Linked DNA regions of Homo sapiens. The protein of the gene in region 3 purifies or fractionates together with the protein of the main gene of each other region. This does not show direct contact. Each region holds a gene or a part of one and is shown on either strand. Other genes may lie near its edges.

Evidence for each region.
Region 1: the proteins of TM9SF4 (region 3) and H2AZ2 purify together in Homo sapiens (affinity purification with mass spectrometry; one large-scale study listed by BioGRID and IntAct). This does not show direct contact.
Region 2: the proteins of TM9SF4 (region 3) and RIOK3 purify together in Homo sapiens (affinity purification with mass spectrometry, with the first as the bait; one large-scale study listed by BioGRID). This does not show direct contact.
Region 4: the proteins of TM9SF4 (region 3) and TMEM161A purify together in Homo sapiens (affinity purification with mass spectrometry; one large-scale study listed by BioGRID and IntAct). This does not show direct contact.
Region 5: the proteins of TM9SF4 (region 3) and SLC25A12 purify together in Homo sapiens (affinity purification with mass spectrometry; one large-scale study listed by BioGRID and IntAct). This does not show direct contact.
Region 6: the proteins of TM9SF4 (region 3) and PHF14 purify together in Homo sapiens (affinity purification with mass spectrometry; one large-scale study listed by BioGRID and IntAct). This does not show direct contact.
Region 7: the proteins of TM9SF4 (region 3) and TACR1 purify together in Homo sapiens (co-immunoprecipitation; one large-scale study listed by IntAct). This does not show direct contact.

Annotation. Positions count from the first base shown.
Region 1 is NC_000007.14:44,838,088-44,841,587, forward strand, and holds part of H2AZ2 (histone H2A.V), read right to left. Parts: intron 2,926-3,500; coding exon 2,812-2,925; intron 1-2,811. UniProt on the Homo sapiens protein: Variant histone H2A which replaces conventional H2A in a subset of nucleosomes. Nucleosomes wrap and compact DNA into chromatin, limiting DNA accessibility to the cellular machineries which require DNA as a template.
Region 2 is NC_000018.10:23,451,800-23,456,086, forward strand, and holds the start of RIOK3 (serine/threonine-protein kinase RIO3), read left to right. Parts: upstream 1-1,487; 5' UTR 1,488-1,640; coding exon 1,641-1,703; intron 1,704-4,287.
Region 3 is NC_000020.11:32,161,714-32,164,734, forward strand, and holds part of TM9SF4 (transmembrane 9 superfamily member 4 isoform 1 precursor), read left to right. Parts: intron 1-3,021. UniProt on the Homo sapiens protein: Associates with proteins harboring glycine-rich transmembrane domains and ensures their efficient localization to the cell surface.
Region 4 is NC_000019.10:19,128,479-19,131,978, forward strand, and holds part of TMEM161A (transmembrane protein 161A isoform 1 precursor), read right to left. Parts: intron 1,830-3,500; coding exon 1,678-1,829; intron 1-1,677. UniProt on the Homo sapiens protein: May play a role in protection against oxidative stress. Overexpression leads to reduced levels of oxidant-induced DNA damage and apoptosis.
Region 5 is NC_000002.12:171,807,245-171,810,744, forward strand, and holds part of SLC25A12 (electrogenic aspartate/glutamate antiporter SLC25A12, mitochondrial), read right to left. Parts: intron 3,033-3,500; coding exon 2,980-3,032; intron 2,443-2,979; coding exon 2,362-2,442; intron 1-2,361. UniProt on the Homo sapiens protein: Mitochondrial electrogenic aspartate/glutamate antiporter that favors efflux of aspartate and entry of glutamate and proton within the mitochondria as part of the malate-aspartate shuttle.
Region 6 is NC_000007.14:11,036,372-11,039,871, reverse strand, and holds part of PHF14 (PHD finger protein 14), read right to left. Parts: intron 3,455-3,500; coding exon 3,184-3,454; intron 2,888-3,183; coding exon 2,781-2,887; intron 1,113-2,780; coding exon 1,017-1,112; intron 1-1,016. UniProt on the Homo sapiens protein: Histone-binding protein. Binds preferentially to unmodified histone H3 but can also bind to a lesser extent to histone H3 trimethylated at 'Lys-9' (H3K9me3) as well as to histone H3 monomethylated at 'Lys-27' (H3K27ac) and trimethylated at 'Lys-27' (H3K27me3).
Region 7 is NC_000002.12:75,189,521-75,193,020, reverse strand, and holds part of TACR1 (substance-P receptor), read left to right. Parts: intron 1-3,076; exon of another isoform or gene 3,077-3,500. UniProt on the Homo sapiens protein: This is a receptor for the tachykinin neuropeptide substance P. It is probably associated with G proteins that activate a phosphatidylinositol-calcium second messenger system.

The DNA.
Region 1 (3,500 bases), on a different chromosome or scaffold from region 3:
AGCCTCCTGAGTAGCTGGGACTATACACAGACACACGCCACCATGCCCAGCTAATTTTTGTATCTTTAGTAGAGATAGGGTTTCACTATGTTGGCCAGAATGGTCTCGATCTCTTGACCTCGTGATCTGCCCACCTCAGCCTCCCAAAGTGCTGGGATTACAGGCGTAAGCCACCGTGCCCAGCCGTGAAATTTATTTCTTAATGCTTATAGAAAAGTTTTAAAATGTATTTTAATTAAAATTTAAAAATTTTTAAAAATAAAAGAGGCCAGGTGGCCTCTTTTAATAAAAGGTGGCTCATGTCTGTAATCCCAGCACTTTGGGAGGCTGGGGCGGACAGATCATTTGAGGTCAGGAGTTCGAGATCAGCCTGGCCAACATGGCAAAACCTTGTCTCTACAAGAAAATAACAAAAATTAGCCAGGTGTGGTGATGCACACCGGTAGCCCCAGCTACTCCGGAGGCTGAGGTGGGAGAATTACTGGAACCCAGAAGGCAGAGGTTGCAATGAGCAGAGATCATGTCCCTGCCTTCCAGCCTGGGAGACAGAGAGAGATCCTGTCTCAAAACAAACACACAAGAAAAACCCCAAAAACAAAACACCCCTTGATCATGACACAGAGAAGCTGAAACTATCCATAACATCCATAATTCGATGTTAAATCCCCAGTGGGACACAGATGACTTGGTGAGACTAATGAAATAAATGACAGCAATGATAACTGACATACAGATTAAAAGCTAAATTCCTCAGCCTAGCTCCCAATCACATCTCCCCAAGTAAGACCCTTCTGTTTCCACCAGAATGAATGCGTCTACACTTGACCTACTTGTTACTCAAATTACTTCCCCAATCTGGAATGTAGCTGAAGTTTTATGACTTCCCAACGGATTTTTTTAAAGGAGGAATAGGGATGGGGAAAGTGGTGGTCTGTGACCCAAGAACTCTTGCCCAATTAACTTGTCTTCCTGAAATTTCAAACTGAGTAATATACAGCAATTTTGTATGTATAACCCTGCAGAGAACCAGGACAGACTGAGTCTTTTACTTCTATTATCATATTTGTGATTTTTATATATCATCACACTGGCCAAACTTTACATCATCCCAAATCTTCATAAACTACAACATTATGCTCTAACTTCACAAATACTGTCTACTGATTACATACATACTTCAAAGTTCACTGGGGTATGGTGGTTTATGTCTGTAATCCCAGCAACTTGGGAGGACCACTTGAGGCTAGGAGTTAGAAACCAGCCTGGGTAACATAGGGAGCCCTGTCTCCACAAAAAAATAAAAAATAGGCTGGGCGCGGTGGCTCACGCCTGTAATCCCAGCACTTTGGGAGGTGGAGGTGGGTGGCTCACGAGGTCAGGAGATCGAGACCATCCTGGCTACCACGGTGAAACCCCGTCTCTACTAAAAATACAAAAAAAAAAAATTAGCCGGGCGTGGTGGCGGGTGCCTGTAGTCCCAGCTACTCGGGAGGCTGAGGTGGGAGAATGGCGTGAATCCGGGAGGCGGAGGTTGCAGTGAGCCGAGACTGCACCACTGCACTCCAGCCTGGGTGACAGAGCGAGCCTCTGTCTCAAAAAAAAATAAATAAATAAAATAAAAATAAAAAATTAGCACCCAGCGCAGTGGCTCACACCTGTAGTCCCAGCACTTTGGGAGGCTGAGGCAAGTGGATCACCTGAGGTCAGGAATTTGAGACTGACCTGGCCAACATGGTGAAACCCAGTCTCCTCTAAAAATACAAAAATTAGCCGGGTGTAGTGGCGGGTGCCTGTAATCCCAGTTACTGGGGAGGCTGAGGCAGGAGAATTGCTTGAACCCAAGAAGTGGAGGTTGCAGTGAGCCAAGATTGTGCCATTGCACTCCACCTGGGATACAGAGCAAGACCCTGTCTCAAAATAAATAAATAAATAAATAAATAAATAAATAAATAAATAATTAGCCAGGTGTGGTGGCACACACCTGAAGTCACAGCTACTAGGGAGGCTGAGGCAGGAGGATCCTTTGAACCCAGGAGGTTTGAGGTTGGAGTGAGCTATGATCATGCCACTATACTCCAGCCTAGGTGACAGAGTGAGACCCAGTCTCAAAATAAAAAAATAAAAATAAAAGATAAGAGATTGCTGGCCCTTGCTTAACTTTTAAAAATTTTTTTACTTTGAGATAGGGTCTTGCTCTGTCACCCAGCCTAGTCTGGAACTCCAGGACTCAAGTGTACAATCTACCCACCTCAGCCGCCCAAAGTGTTGGCATTACAGGCGTGAATCACTGTGCCCAGCCCCTTGCTTAGCTTTAAAAACAAGTACACCAAGGTTCTTTTACATTGGCATTGGGTAATAGCTGACAAGATGCATCTCAAACTGCTATTAAAGAAACCAATGAGGCCGGACGTGGTGGCTCAAGCCTGTAATCTCAGCACTTTGGGAGGCTGAGGCAGGTAGATCACCTGAGGTCAGGAGTTTGAGACCAGTGTGGCCAACATGGTGAAACTCTGTCTCTACTAAAAATACAAAAATTAGCTGGGCACAGTGGTGCACACCTGTAGTCCCAGCTACTTGGGAGGCTGAGGTGGGAGAATCGCTTGAATCCGGGAGGCAGAGGTTGCAGTGAGCCGAGACTGGCCATTGCACTCCAGCCTGGGAAACAAGAGTGAAACTCTGTCTCCAAACAAACAAACAAAAAAGCCCCAGTGAGCATAATATGTCTTTTTTCAAATATATTCCATGGGTTTCTGTCACTGAGACTAGTGCACCTTCTGGATGGCCATATACAACAGACATTCCTGTACAAACCTCTGCAGTGAGGTACTCCAGAATCGCAGCACTGTACACGGCAGCAGTGGCACCCACCCTTCCATGGCTTGTGGTGCGAGTCTTCAAGTGTCTGTGGATGCGGCCCACAGGAAACTAAAAGAGAGATGTCTTAGTGGGAAGCACTGCAGAGTCTTAACATTGCACTGACTGTAATCAAAGGCTGAACAATGTAAGCATGAAATAATAAAAAACTTGATCACACATATCAGAAGCCAAACCTATTACGCATCAATAGTTCCCAGGGCCTGTGTCTCTGTTCTGGTAATCTGTCCAAAATCTTTAACCTCTGCATAATATGGGAAATATCACTCTAAAATGAAGAAATACCACGCTGGGCTGTCATCAACTGTACGTTCAACATGACCCATGGATCAAATTCCTATCTAGTTAATTTCTTCACATAATAGCCACATGCAACTTTGAACCTCCAATACCTTCCTCAGATCTTAAATGTTCTTTCTTCAGTTTCAAGAGGTGATCTGATAGTTAAGAAAAATCAATACTATTATCTCATTGTGGTTCTTTCTACTTTCTGAAAAAGAGGGTATTTTTCTCATTTCAAAGTATCCTGATCCCACTTGTCTGTGCCCTTTATTATTTTTTTTATTGAGACAGAGTCTCACTCTGTCACCCAGGCTGGAGTGCAGTGGCGCCATCTTGGCTCACTG
Region 2 (4,287 bases), on a different chromosome or scaffold from region 3:
TGCAACCTCGGCCTCCCGAGGTCAAGTGATTCTCCTGCCTCAGCCTCCTGAGTAGCTGGGATTACAAGTGCGTGTCACCACACCCGGCTGCTTTTTGTATTTTTAGTAGAGATGGGGTTTCACCGTGTTGGCCAGGCTGGTCTCAAACTCCTGACCTCAGGTGATCCACCCACCTTGGCCTCCCAAAGTGCTGGGATTACAGGCATGACCCACCACGCCCAGCCCTCTCCTATTTTTTCCTAGCCAGAATTGAGAAGTCCATTTCTATTAATAGTTACACCCATTTTTCTTAAACTATTTATCGTCCAATTATAATCCTTTGAACACTAGGAAGGAACACAATTTCCACACACATTCACATATATAGGCAACATTTGCCAAGCACACATCTGCACCCTATCATATGGCTATAGTTTGCCTTATTGCAGTAGGGGTATTTGGAGGATTCAGAACATGTTTTCACCTGGAATGGAAAGGAGGCAAAGATTGTGTGCTAATGGAAATCATTAAGATCAGTAACCCAGGGCTCTCAAGTATGGACAGTTAGAGATACTGACTCGGAACTGAGATTTAGGGAAAACAGTTATTCAGTACCTATTTCTAGAATGTTTGAATATACAACATATAGACAGTGTATAGTTTATAGTCAAAATATAATGTACAGCCAGTCCAGTTCCCAAACCGATTGTCTGGGTTCACCCCTTATTAGCTTTGCCACTTGTTATCTGTGTGACCTCAACTAAATTACTTTACCTCTCTGTGCCTCAGTTTCAATATCAGTAAAATAGAGATAATGACAGAATTTAGCTCTCACGGTAATTTTGAGGACTAAAAAGTTAATGAAAGATTTGAACAGTGCATTGATATACTAAGTGAAATGCAATGTTTAGTTATCTTTTATCTGGTCATTTTATTAGAATCTCTACAAAATACAGAAACAAAAGTTTTATTATGCAGTCTTATTTTTGTTCACTGTTACGTAACACATTTTACACATTTTCCGCATTCCACGCCCCGCCCTTCAACAACAACCACCACAAACTCCGACCGTCCTTTCCAGGCCCTTTCCCTCTATAAACCTGCCGTTTTCTGTCTCCCAAGTCATCCCAGTTTAGAACTGCTCCAGGAAATAATGAATGAACAGAGAGAGCCTAGTTTGTTTATTTATTTACAATCCACTAGTCTAATCTAGTTTAGATCCAGCGGCAATTTTTGGGGTGCCAAGGAGGAAAGAAGGAGATGGCAGTGCGGGGACAGGGCAGAGCCTGGGCCAAAGGAAGCCACACCCAGTTCTTGCCCTGCCCTGCCCGACACAGGCAACGTGACCCCAAGCGACAGCCAGCTGATGCTTGCTTCTCCGAGCCCGGCGGTCAGCAGCCGGAAGTAGCCCGCCCGGGGGCGGGGAAAGGTGCCTTAAGGAGGAGCTAGGGGCGTGCGGCCAATTGCAAGCGACTGTCCTAGCGAAGAGGGCGGAAGAGGAGAGATCCAGTTCCGGACGCGGCCGCCGCCGTCGCCGCCATCTGTCACCTCCACTCCGGCATCAGCAGCCAGTCGCCCGTGTCCCGCCTGTCTCCTCGGCGGAGCCTGCTGCCCGTCCTGCCACCTCTCTGCTCTGTTCTTGTCTCTGCCTTCATTCCCGAATGGATCTGGTAGGAGTGGCATCGCCTGAGCCCGGGACGGCAGCGGCCTGGGGACCCAGCAAGGTAAGTGGCAGACGAGACTGGAGTACTAGCCTTGGTCACACGGGCTGGATCTCTCGGAAAGCTCGGAGAGGGCGGCTTCGTGGGCGATTCGGGAAGTTCTGGGGCGGGACCCCGCGGACCTCGGCAAGGGGGCACTGGCCGCGGGGGTGCCGGGATGGGGATGGAGGGAGCGGAAAGAGGGGCGGAGGGCGGCTGGATCTCCCAAAGGCCACCTTGAGTGGTTAGGGCTCTCTATTTCTTCAGCGTACTTTCTGTATCACCGTAGCATGTATTTGAGCAGGACTGGCTTACACACCCTGATGATACTGGAGGGGAAACAAGCACGATCTTGTTTTTCACTGGCCAAGTGAGTCAGCCGAATACACAGCTAGCCAGACAGAAAGTTGGTTTAGGAAGCTGTTTACTTAATTTGATAAGTGTGGTTATCCCAGTTTGGAAATGTCTTGTTTTTGAAGCAGTAAAAGATAAAACCCAGGCGCACCCTCCTCCCTCGACGCTGAAATTCAAGTGCGCACCACGGACTGTAAAGTGCTTATGAATTTCATTATCTGCCTAAGCTTTGACGTTTAAACTTTTTCATAGAGTGGCAAACTAAAGACCTTTATTTCACATTTGCTTTCTGGTTTCCAGGCAGGTCCTTTTCATGATACTTTGATTATATGGATGAAAACACTTTTCTGCCACTTTATGGAGGGTCTGCTTGAGAGCAGAGTGCTTCCATTGGGATTTTTTGTTCCACAAATTAAGGTCGTAAAGGAGTCTAGCTTTTTTAGCTTCATAGTTGTTCTTTACATGCTAACACAGAATATTTGTTCCCATTTAAAAGGTCTTATTAGATCTTCAGGCTAGGCCTTAACAGGAAAAGGGGTCAATAATTAGCTATTAAGTAACCAAAAGTTAATTTTGTAAAAGTTCTCGTACAGCTGTTGGAAGAATCTGAGATACTGCGTTGGCAAATGTGGTTAAGTCTGCATGTTATTTTGTGTATTTTTCCTTGAGACCTTGTTTACAAGGTCAAGATTAGCAGACATAAAAGGATGAAATCAGTAGACAGACTAGTATTATGAATATATACCCTGTATGTTAAAGTCCTTCAGTTAAGCATTGGCAGAGGCTGGTAAAAATGTCAAATGAGACAGACTCTATTCAGAATACATCCTAATCTCAGAACAAATTTCACTTACAAACTAATTCAGTAATAAACTATTTAACAGTCATATTTTTATTTAAGTGTACATCATCAGAACTATAAAATTCCATTTTCATTGTGCAACAAAAATGCTTCTGGGATTTATAGACGCTCTATTGGGAGGACAGTGTTTTGAAAGGCAAAACAATTAGAAACAGGCTGAAAGTACTATCATTAATCCTTTTTTTCTCTAACCTTTTGGAAAACCAAAGTGATTACAGAAGCCTACATGGAGGAGGTGAAGATTTGAGGAGGGTTTTGAAAAATGGAAGGATTCTCAAAACTTTTTAGTCAGGACTTCTTTCCTTCCTTCCTTCCTTCCTTTCCTTCCTTTCCTTTCCTTTCTTTCCTTCCTTTCTTTTCTTTCCTTTCTTTCCTTTTCATTTATTTATTTATTTGAGACGGAGTCTCGCCCTATCGCCCAGGCTGGAGTACAGTGGTTTGCTCCCAGCTCACTGCGACCTCTGCCTTCCGGGTTCAGGCAATTCTTGTGACTCAGCCTCCTGAGTAGCTGGGATTACAGGCGCCTGCCACCACGCCCAGCTGATTTTCGTATTTTTTTTTGTAGAGATGGGATTTCACCGTATTGGCCAGGCTGGTCTCAAACTCCGACCTCAAGTGTCCACCCGCCTCGGCCTCCCACACTGCTGGGATTACAGGCGTGAGCCACCATGCCCAACGTCTTTCTTTTTTTTTTTTTCTTTTTCTTTTTTTTTTTTGAGACGGAGTCTCGCTTTGTTGCCCAGGCTGTAGTGCAGTGGCGCGATCTCGGCTCACTGCAAGCTCCGCCTCCTGGGTTCAAGCGATTCTCCTGCCTCAGCCTCCCGAGTAGTGGGACCACAGGTGCCCACCACCACACCCGGCTAATTTTTTGTATTTTTAGTAGAGGCGGGGTTTCACCGTGTTAGCCAAGATGGTCTCGATCTCCTGACCTCGTGATCCGCCCACCTTGGCCTCTTTCTTTTTTAATTGAGACAGGGTCTCACTCTGTCACCCAGGCTGGAGTGCAGTGGCATGATCACATCTCACACTGTGCCTTGACCTTGCAGGCTCCCACCTCGGCCTCCTGATTAGCTGGACTACAGGCCAGTGCCACCACACCTAGCTAATTTTTGGGTTTTTTTTGAGACGGAGCCTCGCTCTGTCACCAGGCTGGAGAGCAGTGGCATGATCTCAGCTCACTGCAACCTCCGCCTCCTGGGTTCAAGCAATTCTTCTTCCTCAGCCTCCCAAGTAGCTGGGACTACAGGTGCATGCCACCATGCCCAGCTAATTTTTATATTTTTAGTAGAGATGGGGTTTCACCATGTTGGCCAGGATGGTCTCGATCTCTTGACATTGTGATCCTCCCACCTTGGCCTCCCAAAGTGCTGGGATTACAGGTGTGAGCCACCG
Region 3 (3,021 bases):
GGAAAAGATAAGAGTAACATGAAAGAAGAAAAGTAGAAAGGAGTTAATAAAGATAAAAGCACAAAATGCTGAAATAGTCTAAATAGTAGAACCCAAATTTAGGGCTGCAGGTATCCTGTCTCTGCAGGTGTTCTCTTCTTCACGCAAGTACTGTTCAATCCTGCAGAGTAAGGAGAGGATGGGAAAGTTTTTCACAGGCACCTCGGAGCCCTCCTAACTCTGTGACCCCACATAGGTAAAGTGTGGCCCAATAATAAGAGGGAGCCAGGCTTACCTGACTAGGGCAACTCACAGAGCTCATTGTCCCGAGAGAGAGACGTGGGCAAGAATACAGATGTCCCCACGACAGTTTTACTAGATTCATTCATGATACACAAACCAGATGAGCCATTGAGAGGAATTTGGAGGAGCCCTGTTGGGCCCCTCACCTCCAAAACTAATACTCAAGACTTACTCTGACCTGCTGTACTTTGGGTCTCCAGAGCCCAGAAGCAAGCAGTCCTCTGTGGCAGTCAGGCGTATTTGCAAAATAGAGTTGTAGGTCAGTTGATCGAAGCTGGGAATGCCGTTTCCCAAAAACAGTCAAGTTGGAAAAGACTGGAAGGATCATTTAGTGTAGTGCTGTACCCCTACCTCCAGTCTGGTGACTGTGCCCCTCTTCTCTAACAGTCTCAACAGATGATTCTCTAGCTCAGGGGTCAGCAAACTGCAGCCCGCGTGGGCCAGCAGGCCTGTTTCTATAAATTTTTATTGGAACACAGCCATGGTCATTCATTAACATATCTGTCCATGGCTGCTTTCACACTACAATGGCAGAGTTGAGTAGTTGCGACAGGGACCATATGGCCTGCAGAAACTAAAATATTTACAATCTGGCCCTCTAAGTAAAAGATTGCAGACCCCTGCTCTACTACATCCAGCAACAGAGAAGACACTCCCTCCTAACATTCCCATTCTTTCTGGACAGCTCCTGTCATTATCAAGGTCTTGATTCACACTGCAGTCTCCCTTGCTGTGACTTCCATCTTTAGACCTTAGTCTTAATTCTGGGATCATCTAGAACAAATCTAATCTCCCTCCTCTATAGCCCATATTAATCATAACTCTCATAAGTGGCAAGTGACTAAAACTCTATCAAAGTAGCTTAAGCAAAAAAAAAGGGAAAAAAAGTAGCTTAAGCAAAAAGAATGTATTTGCTTATATAACTGGAAAGACTAAGAAATTGGAGTTCTAGCCTCAACCATGCTTAGATCCAGAGTCTCAAAAATATCAGGGCTCAATCCCAGCACTTCGGGAGGCCGAGGAGGGTGGATCACAGGGTCAAGAGATCGAGTCCATCCTGGCCAACATGGTGAAACCCTGTCTCTACTGAGATACAAAAAATTAGCCGGGCGTGGTGGTGCACGTCTGTAGTCCCAGCTACTCAGGAGGCTGAGGCAAGGGAATCGCTTGAACCCTGGAGGCAGAGGTTGCAGTGAGCCAAGATCGTGCCACTGCACTCTAGCCTGGGTGACAGAGCAAGACTCCATCTCAAAAAAAAAAAAAAAAAAAAAAAATATATATATATATATATATATATATATGTATGTATGTATGTATGTACACATACATACCAGGGCTCTGTGCCCACGCCTTAGCCCTGTGTATCTTTTTTTGGCCTCAGTCTGCAGGCAAGATCTTTTCACAAAGTAGAAAGATGGCCAGTGGCAGCCCTAGAGTCTACTCTTTCCAGCTTTGCAGCCCTAGAGCTAAAAGACTGTCTTTCGTCTACCATGATACGTCAGCCAGTGAAGACACGCTGCTCTGCTCGGGTGACATGCCCAGTGCTCACTGTTTTCCAGGTCCAATAGCATCACATATTCAGACAGACTGGCTTAGGTCTTGTGCTAGGAATTTTTTTTTTTTTTTTTTTTTTTGAGATGGAGACTCGCTCTGTTGCCCAGGCTGGAGTGCAGTGGTGCGATCTTGGCTCGCTGCAGCCTCTGCCTCCCGGGTTCCAGCGATTCTCCTGCCTCTGCCTCCTGAGTAGCTGGGGTTACAGGTGCACACCACCACGCCCGGCTAATTTTGTGTTTTTAGCAGAGACAGGGTTTCTCCATGTTGGCCAGGCTGGTCTTGAACTCCTGACCTCATGTGATCCGTCTGCCTCAGCCTCCCAAAGTGCTGGGATTACAGGCGTGAGCCACCGCACCTGGCCTATTTTGTGCTAGGATTGATGGCCCCAACAGGACCAGGTGTTTTGAGTGTTCCTCAAAACATCTGGAATATGGAAGACAAGGAACACGGTTAAACAAAACTAGAGATCACATCACAGCCTCTTGTCCTTCCTCCCTTCTGCTCCAGTCTTCTTGCTCTGCTCAAAAAATCTCTTCCTCCAGCCCCAATGCCTTATGTATAAAATGAGGAACTTTCTGGCTCTGCCTCTTTGCCTCGTCCCTTGCCTCCTTTTACCACGGTTCTGCTCCTTGTCCCTCCCCCACCCCTCCCCCGACCACCAGCCACAAGAATGCATATAACAAGAGATGGAGGCTGGGTGCATATGGTTCACACCTATAATCCTAGCGTTTTCAGAGGTGGGAGGATAACTTAAGTCCAAGTGTCTGAGACCAGCCTGGGCAATAGAGCAAGACACCATTGCTAGAAAAAATATTAGCTGGGTGTGGTGGCACACACCTATAGTCTGAGCTACTTGGGAGGCTGAGGCAGGAGGATCCCTTGAGCCCAGGAGGGTGAGGCTGTAGTGAGCTGTGATCATGCCACTGTGCTCTAGTCTGGGTAATAGAGGGAGACCCTGTCCCTTTAAAGAAAAGGGGTTAGGGGAGAGATGCGGGGCTGAGCCTGAAAACATGGCCTTCACCCCTTAGGCTTAGGAGAGGGCTTCAAATGGTGACCTATTTTGTTTTCTTTGTTTCTTTACTGTTTTCTTCTGGGCTACTGGCATTCTGTGACCATGTGTCTGCCTGTGAGTCCTGGGACAGGCCCTACTCAGGCCCTGGGCATATCTTGATACCAAGGTTCCAC
Region 4 (3,500 bases), on a different chromosome or scaffold from region 3:
CTTGGCCTCCCAAAGTGCTGGGATTACACATGTGAGCCACCACACCTGGCCTACATTTTTTTTTTTTTTTTTTTTTTGAGACGGAGTTTCACTCTTGTTGCTCAGGCTGGAGCACAATGGCTCGATCTTGGCTCACCACAACCTCCGCTTCCTGGGTTCAAGCAATTCTCCTGCCTCAGCCATCCAAGTAGCTGGGATTACAGGCATGTGTCACCACGCCCGACTAATTTTGTATTTTTAGTAGAGACAGGGTTTCTCCATGTTGATCAGGCTGGTCTTGAACTCCCGACCTCAGGTGATCTGCTTGCCTGAGCCTCCCAAAGTGCTGGGATTACAGGCATGAGCCACCATGCTCGGCCATCTAAATATACTTAATGCCACTGAGCTGCACATTTAAAAATGGTTAAGATGGTGAATTTTATGTTTTGTCTATTTTACCACAATGAAAAAAAATTCAAAGAGAAAAAAGATTCAAAGATGGGCAACAATGTGAACAGGTATTTCACAAAAATTTCACAGAAGAGACATGAATCATGAATAAACAGGAAAAGGTGCTCAACTTCCCTGGTAATCAGAGACATGCATGTTAAGGCCACAGAGGGCATCATTCCATGTGACGAGGGCTAGGTTGGCAAAAATCAAGCCCTATCCATGGATCTTGATTCATTTAAACCTTACTGCCGCCCCCTTGGGAGATTGGTGCAGTCACTACCCCACCTACTTATTATTTGAGGGGTAGGTTTGCAGGTACTCATATGATTATTTTGCTTTATAATTGACATACACATCTTCTTTGTATATATCAAACATATATAATTTTAAAAACTGAAAGGCAGGGAGAATTGGAGAAGGTAAAACTCAAGCAGTCAGCAGGGTCATGTGGGCCATGGTGAGGGCTATGGTCTTTCTCCTAAGACCGGGGGAGTGTGGTGCCGGGCAGAGAAGTGATGAGGTCCAAATTATATGTTAAAAGGATCATTTAAGAGGCCAGGCACGGTGGCTCACACCTGTAATAACAACAATTTGGGAGGCTGAGGCGGGCAGACTGCTTGAGCTCAGGAGTGTGAGACCAGCCTGGGCAACATAGTGAGACCCTGTTTCAATAAAAATAAATAAATAAATAATTTTTTAAAAAAATGAAAAAAGAGGCCACACACAGTGGCTCATACCTGTAATCCCAGCACTTGGGGAGGCTGAGGTGGGTGGATCACCTGAGGTCAGGAGTTTGAGACCAGCCTGGCCAACATGGTGAAACCCCATCTTTACTAAAAATACAAAAATTAGCCAGGCGTGGTGGTGCACACCCATAATCCCAGCTTGGGAGGCTGAGGCAGGAGAATCACTTGAATGCAGGAGGCAGAGGTTGCAGTGAGCCAAGATCATGCCACTGAACTCCTGCCTGGGTGACAAAAGTGAAACTCCATCTCAAAAAAAAAAGAAAAAAAAAGAGCTATAGCCATGAGTGTCCATCAGAGACAGTGAGAGAGGCAATGTCCTGTCTTCCCCAAAGCCCAACAAGGTTCAGGAGCTGAGATGGTCACTAATGGGGACTGCCTTCACCCCAGGAGCCCACTCCTTTGCCTACTCGTGCTGGACACGGAGCCAGTTAAACCATCTTGGTCAGATTACATGAGGGAGTGACAGCTGCGGTGGCCCCACGTTGGGGGCTGCACTTACCAGGCTCCAGGCCCAGCTCGAGGGTCTCCTCCCGCACCACTTGCACCAGCATGGCCAGCAGCAGGAAGAGGAAGGCAAAGGTGAGGCAGACAGAGCGCTCACCCCCCTCCTCGGCGCTGAAGTACAGCCGTGTCACTGTCAGGAACATCTTGCTGGAGGCTGGAGCTAAGGAGGCCTCAGGTGCCACTGCCCCACTCTGCCCATTTCACCACACTCCGTCTGGGACCCCAGAACTCCAGGGAACAAGCACTGCTGCACAAATAGGCCTTGGGGATGACCTAGAGGAGTTCGGTTTTGGGGTGCTGGATCTCAGATCAGGATGTGGGCTGGGGGTTCCCGTTGAGTGGGAGATGGCCTCATCAGGCCACCGTGTCTGTACAGCCTCCCGCCCTGGGTGACCCTGCCTCTTTCACCCACCTCACCTACTTCACATCCCTTGGAAAAGCAATCAGATATAGAAGGGCTTCATCTCCAATCTGCTGTCAAAATGCAGCATGGGGGCCAGACACAGTGGCTCATGCCTGTAATCCCAGCACTTTGGGAGGCCAAGGCAGGAGGATCACTTGAGCCCAGGAGTTCAAGAGCAGCCTGGGTAACATAGTGAGACCCCCATCTCTACAAAAAATAATTTTGTGGTAGCCCCTGTGGTCCCAGCTACTGGGGAGCCTGAGGTGGGAGGATCGCTTGAGCCCAGGAGTTTGAAGCTGCAGTGAGCCCTGATTGCACCACTGCACTCCAGCCTGCACGACAGAGGGATATCTTGTCTCAAACAACAACAACAGGCCAGGCGCAGTGGCTCATGCCTGTAATCCCAGCACTTTGGGAGGCTGAGACAGGTAGATCACCTGAGGTCAGGAGTTTGAGACCAGCCCTGACCAACATGGTGAAACCCAGTCTCTACTAAAAATACAAAAATTAGTCAGGCATGGTGGCGCATGCCTGTAATCCCAGCTACTTGGGAGGCTGAGGCAGGAGAATCACTTGAACCCGGGAGACAGAGGTTGTAGTGAGCCTAAATCATGCCACTGCACTCCAGCCTGGGCAACAAGAGTAAAACTCCATCTCAAAAAACAAAACAAAACAAAAAACAAAAAAGCATGGGAATCTGGGGAACCAGTGGATTTTAAGACAGGTTTCCCACTCCAAAAGTCACAGGAGTAGCATTCTTTCTGTGCTTCCTCAGACTTGGGTCCCCAAAGTCATGTATTTGCTCTCTTTGGGAGGCCAAGGCAGGAGAATCACTTGAAGCCAATCAGGACCAGCCTAGGCAACAAAGCAAGATCCTGTCTCAACAACAACAACAAATATATATACATGTACATACATACACACACACACATATATATATATATACACACACACACACACACACACACAATTTTTTGGGGGGATGTAGTTTCGCTCTTGTCACCCAGGCTGGAGTGCAATAGCATGATCTTGGCTCACTGCAACCTCCACCTCCCGGGTTCAAGCAATTCTCCTGCCTCAGGCTCCTGAGTAGCTGGGATTACAGGTATGCACCACCACCCCCGGCTAATTTTTGTACTTTTAGTAGAGAAGGGGTTTCTCAATGTTGGTCAGGCTGGTCTTGAACTCCTGACCTCAGATGATCCACCTGCCTCGGCCTCCCAAAGTGCTGGGATTACAGGCATGAGCCACCGCGCCTGGCTAATTTTTGTATTTTTAGTAGAGACGGGGTTTCACCATGTTGGCCAGGCTGGTCTTGAACTCCAGACCTCAGGTGATCCGCCTGCCTCAGCTTCCCAAAGTGCTGGGATTACAAGCATGAGCCACCATGCCTGGAGTATATATTTTTTAAAATT
Region 5 (3,500 bases), on a different chromosome or scaffold from region 3:
ATTTTTCATGCTGTCAATTTCCCACTAGACAATCCATCAAAGCCTCCAGAAATGAGTCATGATTAAGGAAGAGATTTAGAGTGTCAGCACAACCCTCAAGGCAACCCAGACTTCAATAGAAATTCCTAAAGTTCAAACCTATAAACAGGGTCGGTAGCTAGGAAGAACAAAGGAACTAAACATCTTATTTTGGTTTAACCACTTAGGTCACATGTCAGACATGGAAACAGGTCAGCTTCATGACCAAAAACCTGGATATTGCAAACGGAAACAAATAATTAGCTACATGGAACAGAAAGAGCATGACTTATATTTCTGGCAAAGGTATGCATGTGCTGTGATAAAAATGAGTTAGAAAGCTTCTTAACCAAACAGAAACTTAAAATGACCAAGAAAAAGAATATTTATGATTGGCAAAGGTTCGCTCTCTAGATAAGAACCAATTACAGAATCTAATTGGAATAAAGGAAGAAGAGAAACTTCATTTTTGGTGATCCACCTAAGCAAAAGTTTTATTCTATGTCCACTGTTAACTCTTCATTAAAAAAGAAATGTAGCCAAAGAGATTTCCTTCCTGAGAATGTGCTGGGGCATGCATACAGGCACACACACACCCACACAGCAGTCCACCTCTTCCAAAGCAACTCTGCAGAGGACTCAGGTATGTGCCACACTGACACATATCAAAGAGAATCTGGAGCAACCTCTCTCTCTCTCTGACCCCCGAGGCAGTGTCTCTGAATTAAATGTTGCCAAGGTCACTGACCTCATCACTTCAGGTTTCACAAGCAACTGAGGAAGTTTTAGCCAAGACTGTCAGCCAATTCAACTGGAAGTTATTAATGTTTCCAAGAACAAAATGGACTAAACAAGTCTGAAACGAACCATGTGTTATCAAATATGAAACAAATACCACAAATGAAATTAGTTGAGCTGCAAATAGATTTAAGAATTGGTCATGCTTACACTTTAAAGACAGAAACCTTTGTGCGCTAAGTAAATATCTGAGTCTCTTGGTTCAGAATTTCTGTCAATAGCTGAAATGTAGTTACCGTTATTATTGTTTGCCAATAATCATGTCATGCTTACACTTTAAAGACAGAAACCTTTGTGCGCTAAGTAAATATCTGAGTCTCTTGGTTCAGAATTTCTGTCAATAGCTGAAATGTAGTTACCGTTATTATTGTTTGCCATACCCTCTGGCCTCTAAAGAAGAAAAATTATTATTAAACAATGGCTTACTCAGTCCTATACCTAAGATATAAGGGCCCAATTAATCAGCCATCTCACACTTGTTTTAAAGTTCCAGTTAACATATATGAATGGTAACTCTATCCACTACTATATTTTCTGTACTCTATTTCTTAAAAGGCATAGGAATTAGAACTTTTAAAAAAGTCTGGAAGGTAATGCTTTAGGAGCATCAAAGAGATAGAGCTGATGAAAATGCCACCTCTTTTTTTGTTATTATACTTTAAGTTTTAGGGTACATGTGCACAATGTGCAGGTTTGATACATAGGTATACATGTGCCATGTTGGTTTGCTGCACCCATCAACTCATCATTTACATTAGGTATTTCTCCTACTGCTATCTCTCCCCCAACCCCCAACCCCCAACCCCATGACAGGCCCCAGTGTGTGATGCTCCCTGCCCTGTGTCCAGGTGTTCTCATTGTTCAATTCCCACCTATGAGTGAGAACATGTGGTGTTTGGTTTTCTGTCCTTGTGACAGTTTGCTGAGAATGATGGTTTGCAGCTTCATCCATGTCCCTGCAAAGGACAGGAACTCATCCTTTTTTATGGCTGCATATTATTCCATGGTGTATATGTGCCAAATTTTCTTAATCCAGTCTGTCACTGATGGGCATTTGGGTTGGTTCCAAGTCTTTGCTATTGTGAATAGTGCCACAATAAACATATGTGTGCATGTGTCTTTATAGTAGAATGATTTATAATCCTTTGGGTATATACTCAGTAATGGGATTGCTGGGTCAAATGGTATTTCTAGTTCTAGATCCTTGAGGAATTGCCACACTGTCTTCCACAATGGTTGAACTAATTCACACTCCCACCAACAGTGTAAAATGGTTCCTATTTCTCCACATCCTCTCCAGCATCTGTTGTTTCCTGACTTTTTAATGATCACCATTCTAACTGGCGGAAAATGCTACCTCTTTTCTACACTCAAAACCCGTTAGCTTTTACAATAAAATTTAAAACTTATTCCATATGATTATTGAGAAAACCTGCTTAGAATCCCTTGAGTTCAAGAGAAATGCCACTAAGATATCTATTATATCTGTGCAAAAAGGTCAACGGAATGTATTTGTCACAAGAAGCGCCTAACAGTAATACTTACACAGCCTCCAGCAAGAACTTCTGCTGGAAGTGGAACAGAGCCATCTCTTCTGGTAAATTTGTCCCGAACAAAATCATTAACCTAATTAGAAAGACAACATCAGTTAACCAAAATTCCCAACCATTTCTCTTCTGGCATACTGTTGCTTTTCCAAGTCAGCAAAATATTTGTCTTATGATAAAATTTAAAATTATCAAATGCTTACATGTAAAATTAAAGTTGTACAAATTCTGCGACAGTGTGCCAGTGTCAGCAGCATCAATTTTAGTTTTGTTTTTGAGACAGGGTCTCACTCTGTTGCTCAGGCTGGAGTGCAGTGGCATGATCATAGCTCACTACAGCCTCAAATTCCTGGACTCAAGCAATCCTCCCACATCAGCCTCCTGGCATAAATCACCACACTTGGCTAATTTTTAATTTTGTTGTTGTTGTTGTTGTTTTGGTAGAGCTGAGTTCTTACTATGCTTATGCTGGTTTAGAACTGGTCTCAAGTGATCCTCCCACCACCCAAAATGCTGAGATTATAGGCATGAGCTACCACGCCTAGCCTTGATTTTAGCTTTTTGGCTTAATGGTAATCTAAACAAATGACATAAATTCAGTTAGAGATAAACTTACAGTCAGTTTAATGGCCTTTTCTGGAGCAACCCCTATAAGTTGTGGTATCAGACCTAGGTAAAGGGACAGAATCATCAGCAATATAGCTGTACCAGACATGAATACACAAGCCCAGCAACAAAGAGTTTCCCCCATATTATTTACCCATCAAACATTGCAGAGTTTTCATTAAAATGGGAAAAAGATTATCCTTAAAACTCTGTATACATATGTAATAATTATTTACAAATGCAGTATAATGTCACGTTTTCTTGAGGCTATAAATCCTCTTCTTAAGCATGCTTACTTTAAAGCCTAGTTATCCAACACTTCCCAAAAAGTCCATGAAGAAGAAACGGAGCCATGCGTCTTCTCTATTCTGGGAACACTGCCAATAACAATGTAACCAAATTCCCTCCCTTATTACAACCAACAACATATAAACATACACAGATACTGTACACTTGGAAAAGCTCTGAAAAGCATGCTGTTAAGCATACCCAGATTTTGCTACCTACATAATGGCATACAGTGGCTTCGTT
Region 6 (3,500 bases), on a different chromosome or scaffold from region 3:
TTCCAAAAATCCATCAACCAACCTATTAACAGGAACAAAGGCTGATCCTCCCAGAGGCGACTACTAATTCTCACCTTTTAAAACATTCTTTAGGATACAAGCCACACACATTCTTTTCACATAAAGCATCTTCAAAGCTGGTATAGCACAGTACAAATCAGTATGTATCACTTCTTAAAATATTTAAATAAGCTGTGTGATGAATTTGACTCTCCATAAACCTCTAAAACAAGTATAATGAAAAATATCTGTTCGAAAAGCTCCTTCACAAATAAAACTACTTTTTAGTGAAAGGACCACAAACAGTGGGTCTCCATCATCCTTAAAAAATAAAAAATATTTGCGAAAACTGTAATTTATCAATTATATACACAGTACTAAAAAAGGCATTCAAAGAAATCCATCTAACAATAATTATTCAACACCAAAAACTTTAACAGACTAAAGGTGTTCATGAATAAAGTTTTTTTTAATAACTACGATCACAGCTACTGTTAAAGGGGAAAAATACATTTTAACATTAAAGTTTAAAAAACCATCTCTTATACAGCTGAAAACCAAATTAACATAAAAATGAATATCTCTAGTTTGCCTTTTTTAATTTTAAATTATACATCCAAAGAATAGAAAAAAAAATACAGCATAAGGACAGGAAAGAAAAAAATGTGGCAGGGAATCTAAAACTGCTAAATTAAAGGAAAGAAGAATGTAGTAGGAAAAACTCATGCTTCAAGTCTTAAGCTTCATCACAAATGACAGGTCAATCAGTTAGAGCAAATGAAAAAATTTTGCACACAAGATAGCTGTTGAAACAACCAAATTAAACTAGAGGTTCTCAGTAGGCAGCTTCCAATGCTCTAGGTGTATTTCAAGCAGAAATCATTATCCCAAAGGATTAGGCCCTGATCAAACAGAATTCTTCGGTTAGTCAAATGACAGTTGTATCAAAAATCTGTTCTTTGAAAATCATATAGGGAGCAAGAACTGAAGGAGACAGCAATTGGAAAGAAACTAACCTGCCCTGTGATTCTGCCTAGTAAAGCCCATATTCCTTGTCCTTCACTTCGAAGTTTTCCATTCAGGTTTTGTAGTTCTTCTAAAGATTCACATAGCTACAAAGTAAGCCAAATTAGTAAACTTCATTAAAATATCTGACAATTTAAGAAATATCTACATTTCTATTCCACATATATATATATAATTTTTTTTTTTTTTGAGACAGAGTCTCACTCTGTCACCAGGCTGGAGTGCGGTGACACGATTTCGGCTCACTACAACCTCCGCCTCTGGGGTTCAAGCGATTCTCCTGCTGCAGTTTCCCGAGTAGGTGGGACTACAGGTGTGCACCACCACATCCAGCTAATTTTTGTATTTTTAGTAGAGACAGGGTTTCACCATGTTGGCCAGGATGGTCTCGATCTATTTTTTTTTTTTTTTTTTTGAGATGGAGTCTCACTCTGTCGCCCAGGCTAGAGTGCAGTAGCACGATCTTGTGTCACTGCAACCACCACCTCCTGGGTTCAAGCAATTCTCCTGCCTCAGCCTCTCGAGTAGCTGGGATTACAGGCACCCTCCACCACGCCCAGCTAACTTTTGTATTTTTAGTAGAGACGGGGTTTTGCCATGTTGGCCAGGCTGGTCTCAAACTCCTAGGATGGTCTCGATCTCTTGACCTCGTGATCCACCTGCCTTGGCCTCCCAAAGTGCTGGGATTACAGGCATGAGCCACTGCGCTCGGCCTCCATATATTTTTAATATATTCAAGCCACAATACCACTGAGAGACAAGGCTATCCAATTATTCAGCAGTATTTGTTGCTGTAAGCATTTTGTTTTCTGCTGGCATTTTTACTAATAATGGTAACTACGTTTATACCTTCTTTTACAGTTTGTTATATAACATCATGTTCTGCTAACTAATCCTTGTGACTCTCTCAAGATGTATTTCCACTATTTTCCCAATGAAAAAAACTAAGGATCATAGAGTTTTTGTGAGTTGGCCAAGATCACAGAACTAGCAAGAATCCCCAGGTCCTCTGAATCTAATTCCAAGTACTCTTTTTACTACACAGTGTAGCTGATTATTGGAAACGTACTTCCTACTATTTTTTTATGACTTAAAATGTTTTCTAACAATAAGTCAATACCCGTTTTATATGTCAAGTTATACTTGGTATAACATTTTAACCACATTTTGCTTTTATAAGATACTTCTTTTTGAATCTTTTCTCATTACGATGAAGAGGTACATGAAAATTCAAATTTGGAAATTTTTATTCCAAACATTATAATATAATTCAAGATAAATAATAATTTAAAGAAAAGTTTCTAAATTTTCTACAAACTTAGAAAGTGAAGCTCTATAGCAATGTTTATTGATTAGAAATAGAGAACAGAGTCACATGAGTTGGCCTCACACCAACTGACTTCATTTGTCAAGTCTGTGACTTGACTACTTGTGTGAACCTGGGCAAATTATTTAACTTCTTCAGGATTCAGTTTTCTCCCTGAAAATGGAAGCAATGATTATAACCTACACTATAAAGTTAAGCTGGGAATTAAATAATACATGTAAAGAGATCAAAATTATGCCTGGCACACAAAGTGCTCAGTAAGAGACAGTGATGATAATGAAGCTAATGAGGAGTAGGAGTTATAGGGAAGAGCCAAAGAGCTCCAGAAGAAATTAAAAACAAAACATAAAAGAAATGCCATACATTCACAAAAGAAATCATCAGTAAGATCTATCACATTATGTTGCATATTTTGTAGCTAACTTACCTTATTATATTCTACATGAAGCTTTTCTTGTTCATTCTCTAATTTATCTTTTATATTCTTTTGTTCAGCCATATTTTCCTGAATTTGAATCATGCGCATATTTCTCTCTATTTAAATGAAATATCGAATTTTACTTTAGTAGGAAGTAAAAACTGACATAGGAAGAAACTAGCTATAAAGATGATCACATTGATAAACCTACATAGTTTAAAACTTTTAAGTATATTTACAAATAAATGAACCTAGCATTTTGTAAAAACCCACAACATATTAGGAAAATAAACATCCCTCTATGATATATGCAGCATGGCTAATAAATTTCTAAAAATTAACAGTATATCAAACATTTTCATTAACAAATTGTTCTCAGTGAAAATGTGCATGTACCAGTGTCTATACTGACCAAAATAATAATTCACAAAATCTGCAGTGAGAGCTGGTTGCTTATGTTTTCTCCTTCCATCCACACTAGAACTAGTATCTGAATTGTCCACTGGAAAGATATCTGTACTGATCCCCATGAGTTCTGCTTTCCGCATAAGTTTACGAATAGCTGAAGCACTGCTGGTGAGTGGTCTGGGCAATTTTTCCCTTGGAACCCAGGCCTGGGGTCTGGTAGATCGAGCTAGTTCTGCTTTGGCACGATACTGCTGAAGCCGGGCATTGATCCTTGCCTATAAAAGAAATGTATTCAAATTTTAAAAGATAATAAAATGAAAC
Region 7 (3,500 bases), on a different chromosome or scaffold from region 3:
AGGAGGAAACGACAAAGAGGAAGAGAGGCAGCAAGGCACAGGGAAATGAATGTGGAGTTTTGTGTTTTAATTAACTTCAAGAACACTGGATTGGGAATACTCATAATAATTTATTAATATCCATCATTTGGAAACTAGAAAGGAAGTTTTATGTTAATAAAATTGATAATGATATCTTTTATTTATGTTCCCTCCAGTCCATTGTCTCATTTAATCTTCATCATGCCAATGAGGATTCTGTTTCAACCTGGAAGAGCGATTAGAAACAATTTCTTTTAGCATTGTCCTCCCACTCTCCACCCCCTCACAGCTTGAAGACCCATGCAATTTGCTTTTATGTGCCTTAGACATCTGCCTACATGCTCCTGCACTTGGTGGCTTTTGGATGATACCTCATTTAAGGAAAACTGTCATTGGAGGCAGAAAAGCAATGTAAGAGTCCTATCACACAAGAGAAAATACTAGAGGCCTTTTTGACAATTTTCCACCCAAATAAAAGTTCAACCCCTCAACTTTCCAAACAGGGCCATTGTAAGAGTACCAAACTCTGCTTAAATATTCTACTCTATTTTTCCCATTTGTTAAATTCAATAAATTATTAAATCATCACAGAATTCTTCCTTTTCTTGAAATGAAATTTGCCTCTTTGGTTTTGGACTATTCCTACTTGTCTCAGGCCTCTTCCACGTAGCAGGCTTTCCAGTAAGTATAAGGATAAGGTATTAAGCTTCTATTTATCTTGAAGCATCCCCAGCTCTGGTTAACTGTCCCTGGTTCCTCCAACTTTACATCATCATCATTAGTCTCTACTGGTTATTTCCATTTGTTAATGGCCCTCTTAAAAGGAGATGACCAGAACAGAGTTACCTTACTACCATCACTCTGTCTAGCATCACCTAGACACCTAGGACTGGCATCCTCCCTAGTGACCTTGCTGTCCTCTTTGACTTAGCTCAGTGCTTATACTAAGATGCTGTCCTAGACCTGCAAGTCTAGCTGAGGGGTCCTTATATTTCCACAGCATTTATCCCGTGGTGTTGCAACTGTCTGTACCTTGTCTATCTCTCCCACACCTCCCTGCTTACTAGATTGCAAGCTCCATGAAAACAGGGATCCCTTATTTTGTTTCCTGTTCCCAGAACCTATCCAAGTGCCTGGCACAGAGTAGGTACTCATTAAAATGTGTGCGTCATGAGCAAACTGACCATGCTTCTCTTCTGCACACATCAGCCAAAATCTAAAAACCAGACCCGATGCCTCAAGCAGACCGTATAGCACACTTACGATGCTGTGCCTTGATGCAAAAGAAAAACTGGGCCAAATTTCTCCCTACCATAAAGGTTTGTTACAAAATAGAATGCTTTTGATTCAGAACCCCCGTTCTAGAATAACCATGGTTTCTAACTCACACTTACTTCTTCCACACTCCAGTTGACTGAGCCCCACAGGATACCTGACCCACACCTTGCCACCCTCAACAGGTATTGTGCCCCAGGAAAAGACTTCCGATTGGAGGAGGTGCTTATCATTACCATCTTACCTCCCGTCTACCCAAGCATACCAGAAACTCAGAGAGATGAAAATGATAAGCACCTCCTCCATCTTATGGACCCTTCTCTGGCCTAACTGCTGTCAACCCCCTGGATTTTTCTCTAACACCCCCCACTAGCAGCAGGTGCACTCTCTCCTTTACTTGTCCTTGCTGAGGTGAAACCAGGAGAAACCTACTCTCCACCCAGCCCTCCAACTCCTGCATTGTTCACACCATATAAAAATACGATAGACACAGGAAAATTCCAGCATGAAGTGGTGCATGTGAAGTCCCACGTATGTGAGACTGACTGGGGAACTGGCTTACATTGCACCAAACTTCTCTCTTGCCACCTTGAGAGACTTCAATTCCACCTCAGTGGAAGGGGAAATATGAAGCTCTCTGGATGAGGAGCACCAAAGATGAAGAGGTGCTTTATGATGACCTGGAGACATACGAATCAGCATGAGTTTTAATGCTACATATGAACTGCTCAAGGAAATTAATTTGTCTAAGCAGCCCTGGGCCTAATCCCCTGCCCTTCTCTTGTATAGTTCTTAATCTACTTTCCAATTCAGCTTTATCACTATGTTTAATATTTGGGATTCCCTGTTGAGTGCCTTTCATGTCTTTTGTATGAGCGCACCCTTTAATAAACTTACTCCTAGCCTTTGGCAGTAGAATGGTTAGGAAAGAGCCCAGGCGATGGGTTCCAGTGCTGGTTCTACCACTTAGTAGCTATGTGTACATATGCAAGGTATTTAACCTATCTGGGCCCCCAGTTTCCTCAACTGATAAAATGGTTATAATGAAACTTACCTTGTAGAAGGTAAGAAGAGAGGGAAAGATTTGAAAAGTCTGACATCCACTAAATACCACTAAAATACCAATTAATAGTAATTAATATTATGCCCTCTAGTAAACTCTGACACACAATCATATCCATTATACGTGTCCATTCTTGTCTCAGCCTCCTCCTGGATTCCTTCTACATCAAGTACAATAGCTACAGGGTAAAACATTTATGTTCTTCCCCCTAAAGATGGTAGTTTAAAACTGTCCTGACTGGGTCAGCAAATCTCTTGCTAAATGCTTTTCAACATTCTTTCCATCTTTGGAAATGTACACACAGTCTACCAGTAGTCCATCATTTGGATATTGTATATCATGGTCCAGAAAACCCAAATGTTTTCTTTTACACCATCCCCTAAGCATTCATTTCCAATCCTTTATGTCACAAAGTCACCACCCTTATATGGAGTGAGCATCATTGTTTAATATCTGAATGAGAATGTGTTCATTGCAAAAAGCTCTTATAGCTGCGTGAGTTTTAATTGATATTCAATTTGTTGAAGTTACAGTGTTTTTTAGCCTTTGAACATATTTTATAAATCATGGAAGTTTTCTTATATATCTAGTTTGTGTGCATTAAAGTATGAAACATTCATTTGCCTTTGTTCTTTGACTAAAGCTCAATAAATCTTTAAACATGAGATAGAATACTTCCAACTAAGTATTTGAATACCATTTTCAAACTTAATCAAATCAATCTTACATATTTTTATTAGTCACAATTTTTATAAGCTTAACAAATCAAATAATCTTTCAAAATGTAAACAGTATTTATAAACTTGATTAATTAAATTCCTCTAAGCATTTCAAACTATACTCACAAATTTGATACATCTGGCTTTGTTAAAATCTTCAAATCCCTAACAGGAAGACTTACAAATAGAAGAAACAAAATCTTTCTCAGGACTTACTTAGTTCTTGTAAGACTAATAAATCAAAACTTCTAAATTTAGCACACAAATTCTCTTAAAGCATTTCAACCTGCTGAGAATTAAACTGATAAATTCAGGTTCTCCTGAGCATCCAAACATTGACTACAAAATTAATTCATTAAATCCTCCTAGGTGTTACACTTAAAATTGCAAATCTTGTAAGTCAAATTCTCTAATATATCAGA